3 separate regions of the Homo sapiens genome follow, and all the other regions are linked to region 2. The links come from fine-mapping of genetic effects on gene expression. A gene starts in region 2. Each other region holds a variant in brackets. All regions are shown on one strand. Distances are between the middles of the regions.

Region 1 (8,177 bases), 39 kb after region 2:
CTCTAGCCTGCATAACAGAGTGAGACTCTGTCTTCAGAAGTAAATAAATAAATAAAGACAACCGGACAGGTGCCTGTGTGCCTCTCTTAAAATCTTCGGAAAGATCTCTTTGCTGCCAAGACTTGTGCTTAGCCCTCTATTCAGAGGCTGGTTATGGGGCAGCGGCCTTCTCTTGGCCACCCTGCCCTTGCAGATGAGGGGCGGGCACTGGGAGCATGTTATCACCTTACCTGGTATGTGATATGTGGGAGTCTCCCAGTTCCCAGACTTCACCAAATCACTGCCCAAATTCTCATCAAGTGACCAGTAGTGGGGAAGTGACTGAACGCTGAGGAGACAATCTTTGTGGTGACGCCATGTGTGTACGTGGCAGTGATCCCCAAGATATTTTTACAAGGGGTCAAGTGAAAAATCATACTTTTTTCCCTTCTGTCTCACCCTTGTCTTATGTTTTTCATACACAAAAACTTACACTTCTCCCTCTCTGTAGCCTTCCAGGATTAAGGGAGGTTCAGATTTTCTAAGTCCTGTCAATCCACTTTAAAGAAGCTGCTTAATAAAGACCCTGCTATCATGATGTTAGAGAATTGTATCTTTCTGGTGGGATAATGAGCGTGGGCCCACTGGGAATTGTTTCTTATCATTTCTTCCCCCTGTAGGTCTGAAGGACACACCAACTCAGGAAGACTGGCTGGTGAGTGTGCTTCCTGAAGGATCCAGGGTTGGTGTGGACCCCTTGATCATTCCTACAGGTAAGTGAGCTTGGTCCCTTTCTGCTTGGGTAAGGAAGTGGCTTCTAGATTCCCCTCCATTCTCCTCATTTGCTTGTGGGGTGTGGAGCACTGGGGGGCTCAGCATGACTGATTTTATAGTAGAGGTCAGGGTGAAGAGAAGAGTTCCACTGGTGGTGAAGATGTGCTTTTACAGTTCCTCATCCTGCACACCCAGCTCTGGGCCATGGCAGGACCACCTTTCTGAAGGTTCTGGACTTTCAAGGCCCTGCTCCCTGCCCTGCTGCAATGGGCGTTCGGCTCATGGCTGGGCCACAATGTGTCTCCTCAGATTATTGGAAGAAAATGGCCAAAGTTCTGAGAAGTGCCGGCCATCACCTCATTCCTGTCAAGGAGAACCTCGTTGACAAAATCTGGACAGACCGTCCTGAGCGCCCTTGCAAGCCTCTCCTCACACTGGGCCTGGATTACACAGGTCAGAATCAATGGTTCTGCCCAGCAGGGCCCCTGCCATTGTCCCCCCACCTCTTGCTATTGTCTCCAGCCTCGTCCTCCGAATCCAAGTCGAGTTGGAGCTGACAGGAGGATTTTGCCCTACTCTGCCCCAGTGGGATATTTGAAGAAGCAGGAGCTTTGTTTGTTTCCACTGTTGCCACCTACTTGCCACTTAGTTTGGCTTTGGTTATTTTCGCAAAGCTCGTTTGGGTGGCTTTTTGGGTGCTGCTGAAAAGACTGAGTTTTTTTTATCCACTCAGCTGCTAACTGCCACTCGAACGTATTTGATATTGGAAATAGAGCATAGAGGTTTCTAGGTTCCATTTCCCTTCTTATGTCAGCATTTGTAGATTTACCTTCCTAGGCCTTTGTCCTCCATCTTGTACCTTCTGCTTTAGAGGCTTTGGGGTGTGGGTGTGTTTCCTTGGCCTGTGCGATAGTGATGGGTAAGCAGCATGTTCTCTGAACCATTGTGTGGATTTATGAAGCAGTGAGGGGGCAGAGAGAGAGGCCTGGAGGTGGGGCTGCAGGGGAGGGCGTCTTGCTGTAGAAACAGAGGTAGATGGGGGATGGCTGTGGAATGTAGGCAGATTGCCCAGAGGGGTCCTGGGAAGAAAGCGTGACAGCCTAGATTCTGGGCCAAGTTTTAAACAGCATTCCCGAACTGATCTTCAGTGCAGCCCTGGGTGTGGGGGCAGCCCCAGCCTGCTTTCTTGTGTGACATCCTCACCAGAGGGGTATTGCGGAATGGGGAGGATGGGTCCAGTGAGTGGCCCAGGGTCAGCTAAATATTTTCCATCAGCGTGGTTTGAAGTTTTTTTCACTAGAGCAGAAGCTCTGACTTGTTGCTTATAGGAGAGGGGAGAGCAAATGTTGCTGTTCAGTACACATTTGGGTGCCTACTATCTGCAGGATGCTGTGCGAGGTGCTGAGTGAATAAGACAGATGCCCACCCTGCTCACAGGTGGCTGTTCCCTGAGTTATGAATGCTGCCCTGGTAGGGTGGTTGTGGTGGCAATGGGGTGAGCTCCTCTAGCACCACGATTTCATCTTGCAGAGCAACAGAGAGGCCTTGGCAGTGTCTGAAAGGGCAAGTGTGATTTGGAAGTGGTAATCACAGTGAGTCAGACTACAGGGAATTCCTAGGTCTTAGCACTGAAAGGCAAGTCTTGCAGCCCCCAGGAACATCAAGTGGTGGGTGCTGTTCCCCTGACCCCTGAGACTGGGTGAGTTCCCTTTGCTGGGTAGTGTGTTGATATAGGTCCCTGTGTGTCCCCTGTTGCATCAGTATTTACAGTAGTGTGTTAATTGCTGGTTTAATTATCTGTCTTCCCTTCTATATTGTAAGCCCCATGAAGACAGGGACTGGGTCTGGCTCAGATCTGTAACCACAGTGACCAGCAGAGTGCCTGGCACGTATCTATGCCTGGCAGATCTAGATGTTACACAGGCATTTGTGGGATGCGTAAATGAATGAATTTTACTGGTGAGGCAATCAAGGCTCACGACAGTCAAGTGGCTTGGACACTTCTTGTATAGGGCTTGAATCCAGGCCTCCTGCCTGTTTAAGTAGCGTGCTCCTGTAAGAAATGGTGCTGATTAAAGATGTTTAGGGTAGGTTCTTTCACTGGGTTCCTACTGCTTTCTGGGACCAGGGCTGGAGTTAAAGCACATTTGTTTCTTGCAGGCATCTCCTGGAAGGACAAGGTTGCAGACCTTCGGTTGAAAATGGCTGAGAGGAACGTCATGTGGTTTGTGGTCACTGCCTTGGATGAGATTGCGTGTGAGTGCTCTGGTTTCGCTGTTTGGGCATGTTACCCGATCTCTCCTTTGGGTCTCTGGGTATCTGTGTGTTCATGCCATTCAACTTTCTGAGTGGCCAGGGAATAAGAAGAAGACTACGTCACCAAATGGGTATAGGAGATGCCAACTAGGATGAAGGAGAAAGAATTACAGGGAGCTGGGGAGGGGAGTGAGGCTTGTCCAGAGCAGTATTACAGCTGGGTGATGCCCACCTCTGGCCAGTCCCTCAGGACCATGGCACCTCTGAGGAAGGGCATTTCCTACAAATATTTTATGTCTGTCAGCCTCTGTAGGTGTAGAAGTGGGCTCATAGGAGAGGCCTTCTTTCTTTACACTTGTCCTGTGGTTTCCTAAGGTCTTTATAGTGAGAATGTTCTGGGAGCATTTCTACCTCAGAAAACTAGGAACTAAAAGTTCCTCCCCAAGCCCTTTGATGTAATAGTAGTTTCTCAGTCTTTGGACCTTAACCCACCTTCATGCAGTTGTTCAGCACCTTCTTTCATCTAAAACCTGACGGAATCTGGTTGAACCTTCCTGTCCTGTCTTCTGGTTTCTGAGTGGATTTGACCCAGGGCAACTGAGAAGAGGCACTGCTTTATCTTTTTGCCTTCTCACTAGAGAATGAGACCCTACTGCAGTGTCCTCTCTCTTCAGTCCCTGCATCTTCCATCCACAAAACATTGTCAAGTGTGTCAGTGACTTACATCCCTAATTAACTTAATGATCTCAACGTCAGAGAAAAACACCTGTAAAACTTTTCTCTCTCCCTGATTGTAACAAAAACACAATCCCATGATAGAAAACTTGGAAAATGCAGAGGAAGTAAAAAGAAGAAAAAAAAAATCACGTATAAATTCTGTTACTTAGAGATAATCAGTGTCAATATTCTATGCATATATCATTTTATAGCCTGATTTTTTCACTGTATCAGTACACTATAAGCATATACAAGCATAATTTTAAGTGAGTATTAAATACTCCATCATGTGGTTATACCATAATTTATTTAACTGTTTCCCTAAGGATGACCTTTGGGTTATTTGCAGTAATCCTGTAATTTATTATGATGCTACCATCAAAATCTTGGTTCATGAATCCATGTCTTAGTGTTTGATAATTTTCTTCCTATTTCTGGTTGGCTTTTAGGGCTTTTGACTCATCTTGCCCTTTGTCTGCCAGAAAGTTTGCACCTTTGTATTTGAATTTGTCTGTCTTGCCACACCTGAACACCAGGTACTGTCATTTTTAAAGAAGTGCTAGTATGATAGGTAAAAAATGGTGCCTCATCACTTTAAGAAGCCATTATTTTAAAATAGAGGTTATACTTTTAATGCCCAGGCGTTTTTTTGCTCTGATCCTCATGAGAACAAGTGACGGAAGCTGGAAGTCCTGGGACCAGAACTGTGCTCTCTCCTGGTCTGTCTAGTTCTCAGACGTTCAGCAACATCACTGTTACTGGCTGTCCGCAGGTCCCCCACCCAGTCGTGGTGCCAGAGCAGACCCATGGGTGGGCTGCAGGCTCTGATTTCATTGGTGAGCTGCAGCCTTGCTGACTCACTGCTTTTCTTTCCACCTCTGACAGGAAGCTCCGTCTCCATGGGGCTCACTGACCCTTACAGAGGAGGCTTGCCTGGCTTCCCTTGTGGGAGGGTCTCAGTTTTTCTACCCTAGGTCATCTGCCTCAGAAGGGAGAGAGTGCTCGTCTCCTTCCTTTTTATTTGGGAGCGCCAGAGGTTTGTCGGCTTCAAGGCCAGGCCTGGCAGGTCACCACTAGG[C/T]GGATCATTTCAACTCCTTGTGGGGGCAGTTCTCAGGATTTCAACTAATAGCTTTTATTCCCTTCTCCGGGCAGTGATGTGGAAGCCTGAGAAACAGCTCTGGTGCCATCACGTGGTGGACATGAGCAATTGCAGCTCAGAGGTGGAACCAGACGGGAGTCAGGCTTCCAGCCTTTCTGTGCGATTCCACTGAATCCTTGCGCAGCAGCTGGACTCCAAGCTGAAGCTCTTCCCTCCCGCTACAAGCGACCCCTTAACATCTTAAGTCAGACAGGTGACAGGGATTTTGATTTCTTTTCTAGGGCTATTTAATCTCCGAGGATCAGATGTGGAGCACAATCCAGTATTTTTCTCCTACGCAATCATAGGACTAGAGACGATCATGTGAGTGTTTGCCCTGCATCTGGAACTCCCTTCCAGAGCTCCTCAGAGCCCTAGTGTGCCCTTTCTGGTCCTGGCCCACCCATCACTGCCTGATATTTCACTGATGTGCTTCTTTTTTCTTGCCCTTTTAACATTTTCCCTTCTTGTTTTCCTTAGCAGTAGGTGTTTATTTATATCCTGCCTCTCTTTGAGCCCCCAAAATGGTTTGAAACGCATGAAAGTGTCTATAGTTCGGGCCACCCATTTGATGTCAAGTTTTCTAGCAGCCAGTGTTAAGGGGTATATATGCTCAATTATACAATTCTGGGTCCACAATGCAAATAAACCCAGTCATTTTGAAGGTCAAAAATAATATGGGAAAACCCCTCCAACTACGCTTTGTTGAATTGTCAGTTTATTTTTTCAAAGCATTTCGTGTGGCCTTCTTTTCATTACTGTTCTATTTCAATAGCTTTTTGCATTAAGACAACACATTTATTAAGTGCTGGTGATGTGCTAAGGGTCTCTGTTAGGTGCTAGGGTGACTGAAACAGGACGGGGTCCTTGGCTGGAGTTGGGGAGATGAGCATGTCCTCTTTCTAAAGTATTTGGGCACATAAGTGGGCACCAGTCTGCTTGTGGGACAGATACAGGTGTTACGAGAGGGGCCTGACCTAGACTTGGAGATCAGAGCAGACTCTTGGGGAAAGTAATATTTTGAAGCAGAGAGTAAGGATAAATGTGGGTGAGTTAGGTGAATGGCAGGGTGAGGAGGGGCGGGGAACCATGATCCAAGCAGAGGGAACAGCATTTTCAGAGACTCTGGACAGTAGAGAGCACAGTGCATGTGGAGGACCTGAAGTGGTTCAGTGAGGTCAGAACATAGTGAGGCCAGAATGTGAGCAGGGGCCACAGAAAAGAGAGGCCTTGTGGGCCACATTCAGGAGCTTGGGTTCTTTTTCTGAACAAGAATAGTGGGAAGCTATTGAACGAATTTTTCAGAGGGAACCACATGTTAGATGTACAAGTTGTAAAGAATATTATGACTGAAACATCGGTAGATGGGGAAAGACTTAGAGGCTGTGGCACTAACCCAAGTGAGAGATGGTGGGACCTGAACCTGAGTGGTGACTGGGCGAGGCTGTAGATGAGCTGGACAGATTAGATGGAGATTTAGGCTGTGGGTCCCAAGGTCTTAATGAAGGACGGGAAGAGGGTCATCAGTGAAGGAGGACACTGCCCAGATTTCTGGCTTGGCAGATTGGGTGGATGGGGGCAGGGAATGCACCTTGGAGGGCAGGATTTGGGAAAGGAGTGGGGAGGAGAGAAAAGGGGCTTGGTTTTGGTTGCCAGGAAACAGAGCCTGATGTGTATGTGTGTCTGTGTTGCCACCTCTCACTCATGTTCCCTCCTTTTTCTGCCACCCACCTCTCCTCCATCTGCAGGCTCTTCATTGATGGTGACCGCATAGACGCCCCCAGTGTGAAGGAGCACCTGCTTCTTGACTTGGGTCTGGAAGCCGAATACAGGATCCAGGTGCATCCCTACAAGTCCATCCTGAGCGAGCTCAAGGCCCTGTGTGCTGACCTCTCCCCAAGGGAGAAGGTGTGGGTCAGTGACAAGGCCAGCTATGCTGTGAGCGAGACCATCCCCAAGGTTGGTGACCCCACTTTGGCCCATCTAAACTCTGCCACCCCCTTCCCAGTTCTGGTATTGTCTTTGGAGCACAGGCAGATTTCTGAGGCTGCCTGTTGGATCAGAACTGTGGTCTCCATGGATGAGGCCTTAAAGCTGGAGCCATAGCAAGAGCCTGAGGGCCCTTATTGCTTGTTGAGTCTTGTGTTTTCCAGAGTGTGGCATGAGAGATTATTTTAGGTGGTACACATTATTATTTAGGTTTGCTTAAATATATCTGTTTTAACAGCATTTAGCATATAATAGAAAAAACATAACTAGCATGAGTTCATGATATAATTATTTAAAATAAAGTTGAATTTAATAAAGCTGATTTAAAGATGGTCTAAAGTAAAGTACTAAGTGAATAAGGGTACAGCAGTTAAGAAGCTAGGGTAAAAGCTGTGCAGGTGGTATAAGAATGCTTGAAGCTTGGGAAATGCTTCTCTACCCCCTCCTTCTGCCGCACCACATTTTATAGCTAAGGACACTTGAGGCTCAGAGAGGATTGGGGAGTTGGGGATTTGGGGATTTGTCAAATTCAAGTGATAGTGATAGCCTTGCCCTTTACTGAGCCCTTGCTGGGCAGTGCTAAGCAGCTGACACTTGTTGCCTCATTTTCATTAGGGTCTGGGATGGGACTGGAATCCAGGCCTCTTTAGAGGTAGGCTTTTCTACTGTCCTCCCCTGGGCCTCTGGCTGCCAAGTGGCCTTTGGCAAGCCCAGTGATGTCCTTTCTTCTCCACTGAGCAGTGGGGCATCCTGGGAAGAATCCAGGCCTGGCTCTCTAGATCTGGCTTGCCATTGTACCCCTGCCATCATCACACACAGTGTGACTCCTCCTCTCTCTCTCTCCTCTCTCTCTGGAGAGAAAGAGAAAAGGAGATAAGATCACAAAAGCAATTTTAGAAGCTTTGTGCAAGTGCCAGGTGTGCTGAGGCCCCTCTGCTGGATTCTAACTTGTTCTCAAATTGGAAAGGGTCTTCTCCAGCCCTTCAAGATCAGATTATTATCAGTAGCTGAGATAGGACCACTGGGCGGGAAGGGAGGGAGCAGGAGACCTCACTCATCAGGTCATGTGCATGGCTAGACAGGGAGAAAAAGCCCCCTTTGTACAGCAAGAGAAGGGTGATTTCGGTCAAGCTTTCAGTGTTAGTGAACTCTAACCACAACCACAGTGGCTTGGAAAGCAATGTCTTGCTGACGGCAGGCAGCCAGCAGTCTCAAAGAGCTAAGGGAGTGAGGGATGGAAGAGAGACACCTTGTTTGATGTACTTACTCTTTTTGGTTGAGCTTAAGCTCAGGGTCATCAATCAAAAGGGACAGGTCGTTGGGG
Region 2 (8,177 bases):
CTTTCCTTTTATTCTAAAAAAGTACTTACTCTGGGTGTAATGGCTCGTGCCTATAATCCTAACACTTTGGGAGGCTGAGGCGGGAGGATTGCTTGAGCCCAGGAGTTTGAGACCAAGGCTGGGCAACATAGGGAGACCCTATTTCTACCAAAGGAAAAAAAATTAGCTGGGTGTGGTGGTGTGTGCCTATGGTCCCAGCTATTCAGAAGGTTAAGGTGGGAGGATTGCTTGAGCCTGGGAGGTCGAAGCTGCAGTGAGCTGTGATCACACCACTGCACTCCAGCCTGGGTGACAGAACAAGACCCTGTCTCTCCCTCCCAAAAAACTCTGTATCTATATATCCGTATCAGTATACATAGTTATGGATATGTTATAAAAATGGGATATTGGCCAGGCGCAGTGGCTCACGCCTGTAATCCCAGCATTTTGGGAGGCCGAGGTGGGCAGATCACAAGGTCAGGAGATCGAGACCATCCTGGCTAACACGGTGAAACCCCATCTCTACTACAAATACAAAAAATTAGCCAGGTGTGGTGGCGGGAGCCTGTAGTCCCAGCTACTCGGGAGGCTGAGGCAGGAGATTGGTGTGAACCCAGGAGGCGGAGCTTGCAGTGAGCCGAGACTGTGCCACTGCACTCCAGCCTGAGTGACAGAGCGAGACTCTGTCTCAAAAAACAAAAAACAAAAAACAAAAACAAAAAAAGGGATATTATATTGTTTTATAATTTACTTTTTCCCTTTGTTAGTTCGTGATTGTCTACATTAATAAAATGATATCTACTCATGCATAAAATTCAATGGTACAGATGGTTACTTAAGTAAAGTCCAGTGGGACATCTGGTTTAAGGTGTTGCAGGATGCAGCACTCAAATAACGTTTTGAGGTCTGCTTCTCCCCTTTCTATTTGCTCTGTCTTCTGCTGCCTTGGTGCCATTCACATGTTGCACATAGAGGCAGCAGTTCGAGTATATGCATCCAGGATCTTGGCTGGCAGAAGGAAGCAAGACTCTATTCCCATAGCAATATCTGATCCTATCATTGTAGCCTATGCCTGGGTTACATGATACACTCTTGGAATCCAAGTGTTGCACTTGGATAACATACATAGAGAATGGGGAAAGGAGGGAAGTAGGGAGAGGTGGGCCCCAGAGGGAATTGGTAGGATGGTTATCAGAAGGAGAATGAATGAATGTCGGGTGGCCCAAAACACAGGTCCACAATCTATACACGGACATTTGGAACTTGTTTTACATTGGTTTCCTAGGGCTTTCGTAACAAAGCAACACAAACTGCGTGATTTGAAAACAAATTTGTTGTCTCACTGTTCTGGAGGGCTGGAAGTCCAAGATCAAGATACCCACAGGGTTAGTTCACTCCATGGGCTGTGAGGGAGAATCTGTTCCATGGCTCTGTCCTAGCTTTCGGCAGTTTGTTGGCAGTCCTGGTGTTTGTTGGCTTGTAGATGCATCGTCCTGATCTCTGCTTTCGTGTTCACATGGTGTTCTTCCTGTGTGCACAGTGTGATTTCTTTTTCTGTTTTAAATAAAGACACTTCATATTGGATTAGGGATCCTTCCTACTCTAATATGACTGCATTTTAATTAATTACATCTGCACTGATCCTATTGCCAAATAAGATCACATTCGAAAGTACTAGGGGTTAGAGCTTCAACATATGAATTTTTGAGGTCACAATTCAATCCAACATATTTCTACGCATTTAATATTTCTGGCTACATCTAAGACCCACCCGGTCTGGGTGTGAATGCCAAAACCAGCTGTCTCCCTCTTTCTGCTGTGTGGGCTAGGAGACTGGATGAGGCCACCTCTAGGGTCCCTTCCAGATAACTTCGCGATTAAGTGTCAGGGCTAGGAATCCATCCTGCTGTCTGAATGTATGTTACAGTACCACCACTTACTAGCTCAGGGACTTTGGGCAAGGGGCTTAACCTCTGCAAATTTCAGTCTCCTCAACCAGTAAAATGAGGATAAGAGTCCTTCACCCATTGGTTTGTTGTGGGTTAGACACATAGCCTTCAATGAATGTCAGGCAGTGTGACTGTTCCACTTCTTTGAGGATGCAAGGACTGTAGAGCCAGGAGAAGAACCTATATAACTCCTGGTGTTCTCATTCTCTCATGGTAATTCAGTGCTATAACTTCTCCAGAGGTTCTCTTGTTAGAACTTCAAGAGCGAGGCCGGGCACAGTGGGTCATGCCTGTAATCCCAGCACTTTGGAAGGTCGAGGCCAAGGAGTTCAAGACCAGCCTGACCAACATGGTGAAACTCCGTCTCTACTAAATACAAAAAATTAGCCGGGTGTGGTGGCGCATGCCTGTAATCCCACCTACTTAGGAGGCTGAGGCAGGAGAATTGCTTGAAGCCGGGAGGCAGAGGTTGCAGTGAGCTGAGATTGTGCCATTGTACTCCAGCCTGGGCAAAAAGAGCAAAACTCCATCTCAAAAAACAAACAAACAAAAAAACTTCAAGAGGGGAAAGGGTTCCTTTTTTTATCTTGCAAACAGGAACTCAAATCCAGCTCAGGGAATGCAAGGTATTTCTCTCTCTCCCCTGAAGCTGGATGCCGTAAATTCTGAGCCAACTCCTTTTCTTTTAGGCAATGTGATTATTAAATACCTGTCCCCCTTAAGTTTCACTTATCTCTCTCTCTCTTATCTCGTTTTCTCTTATAACTTGATTTTTCCCACCAGCTTTCAGATGTGGGCTGGAACCAGTATTTTATTTACAATCTCTCTGTTTTTGGCTTCATAAATTTGGGGAAATGCAACAGATGTGTGCTGCTTTCCCAGGAAGCACATCTTTAGTTTTTTCATGCTTTAACTACACAGTCTAATTCGGCTTGCCTAAATGCTTATTCAATAACGACTTTGAGTTCTTGCAGGTAGCAGAACCTAGCTGATACAGGTATATTAGGCCTTACACCAAGGTCAAAGCAGGAGGAGGTGCCATTCACCTTTAAAAAAATGTGGTCACTTTCATTTAGTGCCAGGTGTTGTTCTAAGCACCAGGGAAATAACAATGAACAAGAGAGCCACCATCCCTGCTTTTGAGGAGTGCACATTCTGAAACATTCATTTCTGCAGAAAATATATAATGAGAACTTATGACATGTTAGATATTGTTCATCATTAAACAAAACAGAAACAATCTGCACTGATGGTTTTGTTGTGTGCGTGGGTGGTGGCAGGAGAGGGGGAAGAATACAGTACACATAAGTACATTAAAAGAATCCTGTTAAAAGGTGGTAAGTGCTATGGAAAAAATGAAGTAGGGTAAGGCGGATTAGGAATATTGGAATGATTTACAAATTTAAATAGGATGGTCAGGGTAGGTGATACTTGAACGAAGACTTGAAGGAAAATGAGGAAGGGAGCCTCAATATTTGGGGGATGAGCAAGTCCAAAAGCCCTGGGACATGAGTGTACCCTGCTTTTTCAAGGAGAGCCAGGAGGCCATTTCAGCTGAAGAAGAGTGAGGAAGGTGAGAACAGGAGGAAATGTGGCTGGGGGTAGATCAAATGGAGCTTTTATGCTGCGTGAAACGAGAAATTAATGGAAAGTGCTGAGCAAAGAAGTGACCTGGTGTCACGCTTCAAAGGACTGGTCTGGCGGCTTTGTTCAGGCTGGACTGTGCAGGTGCGGGATGGTGAGGGGATATTTGGGGGGCTGCTGTAACCACACGGGTGGGGTGGTACAACCCTCTGATGCACATCAGAGGGTAGGAGGTGGAGGTGGTGTGACACGGCCAGATTAGGGGTCTATTTTGGAGGCAGGGCCAACAAGATTTTGCTGGCAGATTAGATGTGGGGTGTGAAAGAGAAGAGGCAGGGAGGATTCCTAAATTTTGCCTCTTAAGAATAGAGTAGCCATTGATTGAGATGGCAAAGAAGACTGGTGGAGAACGTTTTTGCTTTGCTTCGGTGCATTGGGAGTTCCAGGAGTTCCGTTTGGACGTTAAGTTTGAAGGGGCTATTTACTATCCAAGCGGAGCGGAGAGCTGGATTTTGAAGCTCTCTGGGAACATACTTTTGGGGACATTTCTAAAGCTTGAGACCCTGTTCCAAAGCCTCGAAGACCCTGTCGAGGTTCTTCCGGAGCCGGCCACGTCCCTCTCTTCTCAGCCCTCCTAAATTAAGCCGGAAAATCCCTGGGACAGTAGCCCCTTTATTCGGCAAAGCCCTTTTTCCTCTTTGAGGAATGACGACAAAAACGAACAAAAATGAAGACACTCAGCAGCACTGCGTCCTTTCCCCGCTCGCTGCAGGGAGAGGCAATGCGGACTGGTGTGGAAGGGCAGGCCCCGCTCTGGGCCGCAGGCGCTGCGGCCGCGAACCCCAGGTCCGGGAGTGTGGGCGGGGCCTGCGTGTGGGCGGGGCCGCGGCGCCAGCGCCCGCCACGGGCGAGGGCGTGGCCGACCCGGCGCTAGCCCGCCCGCCCGCCCGCCGGCTCTCGCGCCTCCTTCGCGCCGGCCCTTCCGCGGGTGATCAGCTGGTCTGCGCTCCCCTGACGTGGGCTGGGGCACGTCACCGCCGAATGGCAGCCTCCAGAAAGCCACCGCGAGTAAGGTGAGGGCACTCCGCCGGCAGCCGGCGTCCGGGCAGCGTGCAGCCCTCGCTGCGCGGCCGCGCGTGTTGCACCTCGGCGGGCAGGGACGCGCGGGTGAGGAGCCCGGCCCGCCGCAGTCTGGCGAGGGCCGCGCTCGCCGGAGCCCCGGAACAGGAGCCGGGGGAAGGGGTCCATGAGGCCGGGCGAGATCCGGTTCGTTTCCGGAGGGTCGGTGGGCACGGGGCGGCCCGAGTCTGGTTCCTGGACGCGTATGCCCGCGGAACTGCTGCACTCGGCCTGAGGGGGCGGCGGCCGTCACAGTTCCTGGCCCGCGGGAAGGCCCCGTTCTTGGAGGAAGTTGGCCCCTCTTCGTGTCCGGGGAGGTGGGCGAGCCTTTGCCCTCGCTTCTGTTACCCAGGAATCTAAACCTCAAGTTACAATCTCGACAATACTGACTCCTGCAATTCACTCTACTGATCTGTCACCGCCACAAGGATAGACGGTCGCGGGCCCCTCCCTACCCAAATGGTTTCAGAGGCTGTGTAAGGGAATATTTTGGTATAATCTCCAGGAAAATCCCCCCAGTAGCCTGCCCTGGGCTCTCCTTGGGCATAGGAGGGTGAGACAGATAATTTCCCGGCCTCAAGTTAAACATGTTTTAGTTTATTCCCCTGCCATAACCAGGATGTACTTATCAGAGCCTCTGACAAAGTGGGAGACGGAGAGAGGTGTTCAGAGTTCATGGAGGCCACAGGCCAGACTCCCTGGCCATCCCCAAGGGGTCACCCACCTGCTAACCACTTGAGACATGAATGCACTCACTTTGCAGCATGGCCAGGCTTTCTTGCTGAACACAGACCATGGCTCCTGCTTGTGTTTGTGAGTAGGGGGGTCCCAAACCTACCTTGACCTGGATTTGCCGTTGCCACAGCTTGTTAAGGGTGAGCAGAAAACCAGACCCACCCTGTGGAAGTATGTGGGAGGGGTGGAGAACTTCCATCTGGAAGGAGCTTCCTGTAAGTGAAGTGCTGGAAATGGAGTCAGGCAAGTGGATAATGATGAGTTAGGCTGTAGGCCTCAGGTGGTCTTTAGGGGGCCAAGGTGATCTGTGCTAGATTTATAGACTCACAGCCTTTTAGGAGCAGAAGAGTCTTTTCTACACCAGCTGGTAGAGTCTTTTTTACCTCAAAGGAAAGTCCAGTGAAAGGCTGAGAGAGGGGAAGCCATTTTCCACAGGCGCCTCCCCTACTGGTAGAATTTGAGTGCCATTCCTTGTAAAAGTGAGCACTTCTTTCAGTTTCGGTAATGGAAACTGAACTCAAATTGATTTACCTAAAATGGGGTTGAGCTGGCTTCTAGTGTGGCTGAATCCGGGAGCACCACCAACATTGGCTTCAGACTTCTCTTTATCATCTCTTGGCTCTGATTTATTCAGTATCCGCTTCATTCTCAGGGAGACTTTCTCCTTATGGCAGGTTATGACAGTTCTAGGCTGACAGCCCCAGCAGAGAAGTTGAGCCCTCCTTCCTAATGGAGCAGAAGTCCCTGATCTGATGCTCACTGGGCTGCCTTAATTCTCATGTTCATCTGTGAACCAATCATTATGGCCAGAGGGAGGGATTGACCTGCTTTGGGTCCCAGAGCCTGTTAGGTGTTTGGATAAGACTGCTTTGAACCCCTTGGGCTGAAATGGAGAGGGTACATTCTCAAAAGGAAAACCAAGGTTCCCATCAAAAGGAGGGATGGATTCTGGGTAGACAAAGACAACATTGCTTACTTCCCAACCTTAGAACTTGTTCCAGTTTACCCTTGTCTCATCCACTAGGTGTGATTGAGCATCTTGTTCCTTGTTTTGCCCCATGCTGAACGCTACACATGTGTGATTCCCATGAACTGGGGGTTGCAGGGGGGTGAGGTATTCAGAACCCTGCCAGAATTTCTTGGAAAAAGAGGGAGAAGGCCTTTTCTAGTGCTACCATAACCATCTTATACAAAGATTGAAAGTGCTCTGCATGCTTCTTGCCCCTTACCCACTTTGTGGCTCATCATGAAGTTGAGAAGGTGTAGGTCGAAGAAGTTCTGGGAAGGGTAGGAGCACTGAGCTGGATGTTGGGAGGCTGGAACGCTGGTTCTAGCTCTGTCAGCAGTTAGCTGTGAGGCCTTGAGCCAGTCATTTGATCTTTGTTTCTTGGTTTCCTGGTCTAGAGGAGGGAATTGAGTTGGATAGTCCCTGAGGTATATTCTTCTAGTTCTTAATATTTAATGATAATTGTGCTTTGACAGAGAACTTAAGAATTTTATCTGTCCAAACAAGTGAAAGGTGGATAGATCTTGGACTCTGCGGAGACCAAGATACGACAAGAACAGAGCAGCTGTAGTATTGAGCTGCTTCGTAGCTCCTGTGATCCTGACAGAAAGGTGGAGGTGTTGATGCTCACACAGAGAGTTTGAGCTCACCTGTCAGACCTAGTTTCTGGTCTTGGCTTTGCGGCTACTGAGTTATATGGCCTATGGTAAGTTATCTTTGTTTTTTTATTCTGTAAAATGAATGAATAGGATTACCTTAAGGTAACCTTGGCTAGGCACGGTGGCTCACACCTATAGTCCCAGCACTTTGGGAGGCTGAGGTGGGAGGATCACTTGAGGCCAGGAGTTTGAGACCAGACTGGGCAATGTGGTGAGATCCTGTCTCTTCAGAAAATTATTAAAAAAAAAAAATCAGGTTGGTGTGATGGCACATACCTGTAGTCCTAGGTCCTTGGGAGATTGAGGCAGGAGAATTGCTTGAGCTTAGGAGTTTGAGGCTGCCATAAGCTAAGATTGTGCCACTGCACTCCAGCCTGAGTGACACAGCAAGACCCTGTCTCTAAAAAAATGATAACCTTCCACCTCTGTAGTCATGTGTCTGAACCAGTCATTGGGATCAGTTACTTACCATCTTAGAAACTTACGTATGAAGTAATGGGAAATTCGGTGAGAATCTGACTTGTATCCCTGTCCACAAGAAAGAGATGTTATAAAATTTATAATGGCTTTATTGAGATATAATTCACTTATATACAATTCATCTGTTAAAATGTACAATTCAAGTTATTAGTATAGTCACAGAGTTGTACAACTATCATCACAATCATTTTAGAACATTTTCTTCATCCCCGAAAGAAATCCTGTTACCTGTAATCAGTCACTCCTCACCTCAGCCCTTGGCAACCACCAACACTGCATGTCTACTTCCTGTCTTTACCGATTTGCCTATTCTGGACATTTTATGTGAATAGAATCATATACTATGTGGTCTTTTGTATTAGGCTTTTTCCCTTAGCATGTTTTCAAGGTTCACCTATGTCATAGGTGTGATTTCTTTCTTTTCTTTCTTTTTTTTTTTTTAAATGAGACGGAGTCTTGCTCTGTTGCCAGGCTGGAGTGCAGTGGCACGATCTTGGCTCACTGCAGCCTCCACCTCCCGGGTTCAAGTGATTCTCCTGCCTCAGCCTCCTGAGTAGCTGGGACTACAGGTGTGCACCACCACACCCAGCTAATTTTTGTATTTTCAGTAGAGATGGGGTTTCACCATGTTGGCCAGGATGGTCTCTATCTCTTGACCTCATGATC
Region 3 (8,162 bases), 59 kb after region 2:
GTCTTGGTGGGCAGGCATGTTACTAGGGGAGGTGGAGACTACCTTAAATAGTTCTAATCCATCCTCTAAATCCTAAATTCTCTAATCCAGTCTCACTTTGTAATTTTTAAATTTAGAGGTCTAGGCCAGTTGAGTCTGAAAGCCCTAGGTTTTCTGAGGACTCCTGAGCTTTTCCTGTATTTGTTGGGCCTCCAGGTGGAGATAGTCCTGTTTCCCGCAGCCATTCTGGGGCTGTAGGGTTTGTGGGTGGAACTCGTATGCCATTGTTTGGCTGTACTATTCCTCCATAGCTGCAGTGAGGCGTGTTTAGCAAATATGAGCCTATGTGTGTCCCTACAAAAAGCCAGATGGATGGTGGGGCCTCTTGGCCACTGTACATACCAGATTGTTTTCTTGTGTTACATGAAACATTAAGGAAATGGAAAGCAAAATCTATTATCGTATGTCCTGTTTTCACACAGACAAGGAGAAAGATAGTACCAGCCCTTCTCGGTTACTACTGTGGTCACTCTGGGGCAGTGAAACCCTTCACAAAGCCTGGGGCACAACAGTGCTTACTTGCCCAGCTCAGAGGGTTATGGGTCTTAACTCCTTCAGACCCTGGACTGGTAAGGCCAGGTCAGATGGCAGTCCTGGGGACATGAGAAAGGCCTGAAGAATCACACAGATGTTCAAGGTCAGAGCAGAAACAAGGGTCAGAAATGGGGTAGGAACTGTTAGCACTAGACAGACAAAACAGTTCCCAAACCAGGAAGCTGGAAGCCAGGAGGACACAAATTCCAGAGCAAGGCAGGGGTCAGAAGTTCCAATGAAAAGCAAATGACTGGTGGGAGCCGAAGGCAGGGTAAGCACGGTGGGTTACTCTCGGAATAAGAATATTTTGTTATCTGAGGCAGCCAATGGCCTTTGAGTGCCTCTCAAGGCAGGAACATTTCCTCACTGGCGCCCACTTGGGCCTCGTTCTTGACACTGTAAAGGAAAGGGTCTTTGGGGGTTAAGGACCTTCCCTTCCACAGGAGCTGTGGAATGGGATTCTCCCAGCTAGAAGCCTCTTCTGCCTGTTCCAGTTCACAGGTGGGTGATGAGAAAGTCCATCCACTTCCTGCTTAGCTTTCCTCTGTGCTTGAGCGCCTCTGCTTAACCATCCGTGCCCTTGGTTCAGCTAAACATTCCCACTCACAGGACCCACATGGGCCTTGCTGATACCGGGTGGGTTATGCAGCTTGTAGATGGATATGGAAAAGGAAACTCAGCCTATCAGCACAATGTCTGGTGTGTCTCTTCAGCAGGAAGAGTCCTTCCAGTGTCCAGGGGCTCTTGTCCAGCCCCTGTAAGTGTTGCCTTAGCTGAGAGGAAATGAAAACACATAGGTGGGCATGGGACCCACCCTGCTTAGAATCCCTCTGCCCCATAGGAACCAGTGTCTCTTGTAATGGCCCTTGGGCACAGCTTCCAGGGACTTAGCAAGGGGCTTTCCAGTAATAAGTCATTTCGCACTCTTGGAAGTCCAAGGCTATGGATTCCTGCCAAGTAATTCTAGGTCATGCAGTCCTTCCTGTCCACATAAAGTGTACCCATCAGGAGGCATTTCTCCCATATGACATTCCCCTTTATCCAGGGAAGTAGTATATGAGGAAGTTTAAGCCAGGCCATTTTTCCTCGAAGGAGAATCAGTCTACTCCCGTGACATTGGACATAGACCAGGGATCTGTGTTACCCAGTGTTTCATTGCTGCACCTTGCATGCCCACATGATTGAACTATTCTTTCGGCCAGTTACTCTTTGTAGGGCAGATAATGTCTTCTTAAAATATCTGGCTTTTAAAATATCTGGTCATTTGCCCTTTACTATTTAGCCTTTATTTTGGAGTCACTTTAGGGAGTTTTTGGTTTGGGTCTGCATCGTCATCACTTATCACCAGATGGCAGCAAAGGACCTTGGTCAGATATGAATATGGCCAGCTGCAGACTGTCAGGGCCTTGTGCTGCTCCTCAGGCTCCACCGAGGCTGTCCACACTCCCACTTTTCCCTCCCTACTTCCAACCAAAAGGGCCATGGGCGTTTGGCTGTGGCCCCAGGCTTACACCAGGATGCTGCCGTTGCCTTACTGTTGAGCTGCTTTGGACAGTAGGCTGCTTTGTAGCCCTGCTGGCCTTGCTGTGGACACATAGCAGTTTGCCTGCTTTTGACATCCTCCCCTGCCCCCATCACTTCCCTGACTCCCAGAAGGGGCTACTAGGCTCTTCTCAGTAGGGATTGGAACCCTGGCTGGGTCACAGCCAGTTGGTAACACCACCCTATCTGTCTGCCCTCAGTCCCTTGTAATTAATGGGTTTGTGTGCCCATCCTGACCCCAGCTGGGCTTTGGTACCTGGCTGGATTGTAGTCCCTGAAAGCAGTACTTCTGTAACATCGCTGCCCTCCAAAATGGCCTTTGACTCATTTATGACAAGCACAGCCATGGCACTATCAGTCTCATCAGCTTCCAGACAGCTACCCCCATAGACAGTGATGAGAGTGGCTTGTTGTCCTCTTGGTAAAACCTGCTTCACTCCAGACTTCACCTTTTCCCGTATACAACCAAGGAGGAGAGTTCACCCTTTTTCCTGCCTCAGAGCTTTTGCCATCATGTCTAGTGGATCAGCCCCTGCCCAGGCACCAAGTCCTGCCAGCAGGTCCTTCCTTTCACTCTCTTTTTTGTCTCCTGCTCTTGTGGCATGTTGAGTTGAGAGTCTGAAAACTAAGTTTACTCCCAGCGCCATTCTGCTGCACCACAGTCTTTAACCACCGCAGGTTTTGGGTTCATCTAGGCAGCTACACTCAAAAGACACCCATGGGCTTGGCTGATCCTAGTTTTTTATTCAGCTTTTTCAGTGGATATAGGATATGTAGCCCAGTGTGTTGGCAGGACAGCTTCGAGTGTCTCTCTCAGCAGGAGTTCTCACAGAGTCCGGGGCTATTCCCCCACTTACCACCTCCCAGGATGGCTCAGGTTTAAGGGAATGAAGCCACACAGGTGGGAGCAGGAGCTACTGGCTTAGAGACTGCTGTCTATAATAGTAAACTGTTCTGGGAGCCTTTTCACCAGAAGCCATGAAGTCTGGTCCTATGTATTTCCGGGGAAACAGAACACAAGGAAAATACTTACCTGTGAGTAAGGAGAAAGGGTGTTGCACACCTTTTCTCTCAGCTTGTGATCTTAGCACATGGGGGCCTTTGCTGTTGACCTGTGTAGCCAGTTGTTAAAGATGTAGTGGTGAATACCGTGTCTGTCCTTCTCTTCCCTGCAGTGCGACTGGCTCAACAATTACCACCTGACCTGCAGGGATGTGATTGGGAAGGAATTGCAGAAACAGGGCCGCCAGGAAGCTCTCGAGTGGCTCATCAGAGAGACGCAACCCATCTCCAAACAGCATTAATAAATACCTCCCCGGTTTTGTTTTTGTAAAATGCTCTGGAGGAAGGAAGAAACGTGGCAGATCCCTGACATCTTTCCCCTTTCCTTTCCTTCTTCCCTACCTCCCCTTTTTACTTTAGACTTTAAGAAGAACAGAAAATCTTCTTATCCTCTTTGATATTTTATTGCAAACA[C/T]TCAGTCTTTTATGATTTTTTAATTGTTGAGAACAAGCCAAGAATAAAATTGCTGCACCAGAAGGAGGGTCCCTCCAAAGTTGAACACTTGGTGAAAGGAAGATGCCCCGACTTCTTTGGCCAGTGATGGGGAATCAGTGAGTGCTCCATGATGGTCATGTTCCAGGTGCTAGTACATCATTCATGATCACCTTAATGCTCATGAGACTATATTTATGATCAGTGAATAAAAATGTCAGAACTGTGCTTTGTCTTAGCTGTCTCTTTCTTCATGGTGCTGTCCCCCGGCATGTCGGGTGAGCTGATCTCCAGGGCTGCTGGCTCTGTGGCAGACATTTCCTAGGTGGAAGGGCCCCTTTGAGAAGAGACCCCTGGCCTCCCCGCACATTTGGGGGCTTAGTTGTAAGCTTTTTCTTTTCTCTAGAAAACCTAATATTATGGTGTTTTTATCTCAGTTTTTTTTCCTGATTTTAAAATATGTCATTCCTATGCAAAAAACAATAAAAATTATGTCAAAAGTCAGTTTTCCATAACTCACCCTATAGCAGATGCCACAAGTGTCTTACCTACATGGCCACAGCTCTCATTGTTCCGTTACTTGTAGGCAGGATTCTGTGACAAGTGCCTGCGACTCCCATTCTGCAGGATTTCTTTTGACTTGTATATGTGGGGCAAGCTCCAAGGGTTGGAGAGTTAATGTCCCTGAGATCTCAGACCATCACGTTTGGGGATGGGATGGGCAAATAGACTTCCTCATCCTTTGGCTAAGATATCAGAGGTATGTCTTACATTGTCACTCAGGGTTTCCCAGTGGGATTGAGCCCCACTTGCCCACCATGGTAACTTGCTCAATAACCAACCCTTTGTTTTCTTTCTTCTCTTCCATGTCCTACTTTCTTCCTGTCCCATTAGTGTTTCCTGGTACCATCCTGAATGAACCATTTACATGCAAATCCTTGTTTTAGGGTCTGCTTTTTTATTAATCCAACCTGACATACTCCTTAGATATAACCACTATTATCTGCTTTATATTTTTTGCTGACTCCTTTTTTTTTTGTATTCAAAATTTACTAAAATACTGATTATTTGTGTATGTATGAAAGAATATGCCATATATGAACATATCACATTTACAAACAGTGAATTATTCTGTACGTATACAATTTTATCTTTTAACTTGGCAATATTTTAGATTGAATTATTTTTAATGACTTAATTCCATCGTATGGTTATATTGTTTTAAAACTAGCCTCATTAACTTTTTAAAAACAGTAATACTAGCATTTAGACATAATTTTTTAAAAAATGTATTAGTCTTAAATCATATAGAAAACAAAAACTGGAATCACAAGCTATCAGTACACTAATACTGGTTTTTATAATTGCCCAATGTATTTATTTTTCTTGAGATCTTTATTTCTTCATACTGCTTTGGGTTACTGTCTAGTGTCCTTTCATTGTACTTTGCAGAACTCCTATAAGCATTTCTTGCAGGGTGGGTCTAGTGGTACTGAACTCCCTCAGCTTATGTTTACCTGGGAACCTCTTAATTTCTCCCTCACTTTTGAAGGGCAGTTTTGCTGGATATAGGATTCTTTGGTTGTCAGTTTTTTTTTTTTTTCTTTTAACATTTTGAATATTGGCCCACTGCCTTCTGGCCTCCAGAATTTCTGATGAGAAATCTGCAGGTAATCTCACTGAAGATCCCTTTTACGTGGTAAGTAGCTTTTCTCTCACTGCTTTCAAGATTCTCTCTGTTTTTGACTTTTGGAAGCTCGACTATAATGTATTTTTGTGTGTATCTCTTGGAGTTAATCTTACTTGTGGTTTATTGGGTTTCTTGGATGTTTACATTCATGTCTTTTACCAGATTTGGGAATTATACAGCCATTATTTCTTCAGATATTCTCTCTGCTGCTTTCTGCCTTCTCCTGGGACTCTAACAATGTATATTTTGGTCAGCTTGATGGTGTCCCACAGGTCTTCTAGGCTCTGTTCCCTTTAATATTTTTTCTGTTTTTCAGACTCAAAATTTCTGTTATCCTATCTTCAAGTTCACTGATTTTCTCTTTTGCCTGCTCATATGTGCTTTGAATCCCTCTGGTGAATTTTTCATTTCAGTTACTGTACTTTTCAGCTCCAGAATTTCATTTTGGTTTCTTTTTATGTTGTCTGTCTCTATTGATATTTCCTTTTTTTCTGTGGATTTTTCTTTTCCTCTGAATGGGCCATACTTTCCTGTTTCTTTGTATGCCTTGTGAGTTTTGGTTGACAATTGGACATTTGAATCTAATAATGTGGCAACTCTGGAAATCAGATTTTCCTCTTTCCCTAGGGTTTGCCCTTTTTTGTTAATGTGTGTTATTATTATTATTATTTATTGTTGTAGATAGTCTGTGGGCCAAGTATCAGCCTGAGGTATCAACTTAAGGTCTTCTCAGGTTTTTTTCTGAGCTTGAGCCTTTCCCTGGATATGTGCAGTCAGTCTCTAATTTCCCCTATATGTGCAGTTGTTTTTGAATGTCCTATTACTTAATGTCTGGCTCCCAACGAGGGAAAAAGAAAAATGAAGGGCAGGAAAAGGGTACTGGTCCTTTAAATCCTCTGGAAGTCACTTCAGCCAGAAGGGGAGAAGGGACTTCTAACAGTCGGGGGATGGGATGTACAGCAACAGTGGCTGCCCACGTCTTTGTCTGCGTCTCTGTGTTCAGAAGCAGTTACCAGAACACAGGTCTGCAGTATTTGGAGGGCAAGTTTCCTTTTGTTCATTTTGGCTCCCACAAGCTGTATGCCAGTTGCTCTGGGAACGTGTGCATAAGTTCCTGCCAAGGGGTTAGGAGTAGACATTGGTAGCTGCTACTGTGCTAAGAGCTGAAATGGATTGAAATTAACGTTCATTTACCATCCAAGTTGTCCTCTGGAAGTTGCAAGCGTTCAGTAGACTCCAGAGTTCTAAAGTAGTTACATCAGGCAGATTCTGCCAGTGCAATTGTTGTCTAGGTGGAGAGACACTTTCCGAGTGCTTCCTACCATCTTCCCAGAATCCTCTCCTTAAATCCTAAACCATATATTTAATTCGAATGGCTTTGACAAATGAATAAATATAAGCATACTTTGGCCATTTACCAAAGCATGGCTGTAAGTGCCCATTACTTTCTCCACCTGGCGGAGCAGAAAATGAAATGAAACAATCTATATTTACCATTCAGAACCAGGGTGGTCCTACATAGAGTGCCTAAAAACAAATGAACCAGCATTTGTTTGCTTTTCGTCTCCCACCCTCCTCTTTTTTTTTTTTTTTTTCTCTCAAGGATCATTGATTTCAATGTGCTATGTGGGAGGAAGCAAGATTCACTGCTGCCTCTCGGTATATTTCTAACGAGGTCAGGAAAGCATAGAAGCAGTGCCTCCCAATAATAGGACATATTTTGATCCATCAAAGATCAATTCTTGAATGCCTTTTGTCCATGCTTGGTCATATTTCTAATATGTACCATAACATTGGACTTAAAAGAGAAATTTCTCCCCAAATGATAGAATGTATTAAGCATGTTTCTCATCTGTCATTCCTCTGGAAGTTAGAAGATTTCCCTTAGGACTCAGGCTGTTGTCTTCTCTGATATCCCAAAGTCTTCTCTTGCTGAGGAAATGGGAGGCATGAATCGCAGTTGATTTGGAGTTGAAATAGTCGTAACTCAAGTGTGACGGCAACTCCACTGTCTGTTCATCAGGCTGTTAAACCTGTTCTTCCCCAAGGCAGCCTCAGAGCAAAGTTTGATTTAATTGGCTGTAGCCCGAGAAGCAAAGGTAACAGGTGCTGGGTGCTTGGAGCTTCCTGCCTGGACCTGCTTTGTCTTGGCATTAAGTCCAAGAGACATAAACTAGGCAAGATGGCCCCATAAGGATTGAGGACCAGAATAAAACTCTAATGTGCCAGAGCTCAGAGGGAAGATGAGGAGATAAAAATGTAGATAAAAAAAAAAAAATCACTCTTCCTCACTTTTAAATAAATGATAAAATAAATGTTGGGTAGGAAAATGGGCATTGTGTTGAATTTAAAGAAGGAAGCTGATCTCGTTTCTTTGTCTTGCTCACTGTATTCCCTGGTGAAGTTTTATGTATAAGGTAGGAGGATTCAAGGAAGGGGACAGATGTGGGGCCCCTGCTGTGAACACTCCAGGGACTGACTTGTGGGACGCTTGTTCGCCTTCTGGAAAGAGTCCATCTGTGCCTCCTGCCAGTGAGGGGGCTGCCCCCACCACCCCAGCTCTCACCACTTCTTTAGCTTGAGGGCTGTGCCTGGCATCTGGCTGCCTGACAGTAACCATCAGTTGTTCCTCATCAGGCTCATTCCCGGTTAGGGGTGGGCAATTGTGAAAGGAACCAAGGTTGAACTAACAAGCCATGAGGGAGGTGTTGCCCTCGTGTTTCCCAGCAACTGGGGGTTTATACCAGTAATGATATGAAGACAAAGTAGAGTGCTTTGGGGCATCTTTCAAGCACCGTTGGCCTCTAGCAAGAGACAAGATGGGGGACTGGGAGGGCTGCGAGAGGGGAGGAAGGATACTGTG

Direction of the effects. Alleles are on the strand shown, and positions count from the first base shown. SD is a standard deviation of normalised expression in the study named. Not every link is listed here.
As copies of C replace T in region 1, the expression in adrenal gland of the gene that starts at base 4,476 in region 2 goes up (small effect, 0.34 SD a copy in GTEx).

Evidence for each region. PIP is the estimated chance that this variant, and not a neighbour inherited with it, causes the effect.
Region 1: its variant is fine-mapped to the expression of XPNPEP1 in adrenal gland (GTEx, PIP above 0.99).
Region 3: its variant is fine-mapped to the expression of XPNPEP1 in T cells (TOPMed, PIP above 0.99). The same link has a PIP of 0.9 or more in blood mononuclear cells and whole blood.

Annotation. Positions count from the first base shown.
Region 1 is chr10:109,881,078-109,889,254 of GRCh38, reverse strand. XPNPEP1 (X-prolyl aminopeptidase 1) reads left to right here. Exons shown (of 21, transcript NM_020383.4): 6 at 660-752; 7 at 1,063-1,206; 8 at 2,914-3,009; 9 at 5,107-5,188; 10 at 6,613-6,823. Among named protein-coding and RNA genes, the nearest start is that of XPNPEP1, 38 kb to the left of the region's middle. The variant C/T (reference allele first, on the strand shown) is at 4,805.
Region 2 is chr10:109,919,810-109,927,986 of GRCh38, reverse strand. XPNPEP1 (X-prolyl aminopeptidase 1) reads left to right here and starts at 4,476. Exons shown (of 21, transcript NM_020383.4): 1 at 4,476-4,585. The coding sequence starts at 4,554. RefSeq lists a silencer at 4,261-4,800.
Region 3 is chr10:109,860,441-109,868,602 of GRCh38, reverse strand. XPNPEP1 (X-prolyl aminopeptidase 1) reads left to right here. Exons shown (of 21, transcript NM_020383.4): 21 at 3,291-3,837. The coding sequence ends at 3,419. Among named protein-coding and RNA genes, the nearest start is that of XPNPEP1, 59 kb to the left of the region's middle. The variant C/T (reference allele first, on the strand shown) is at 3,592.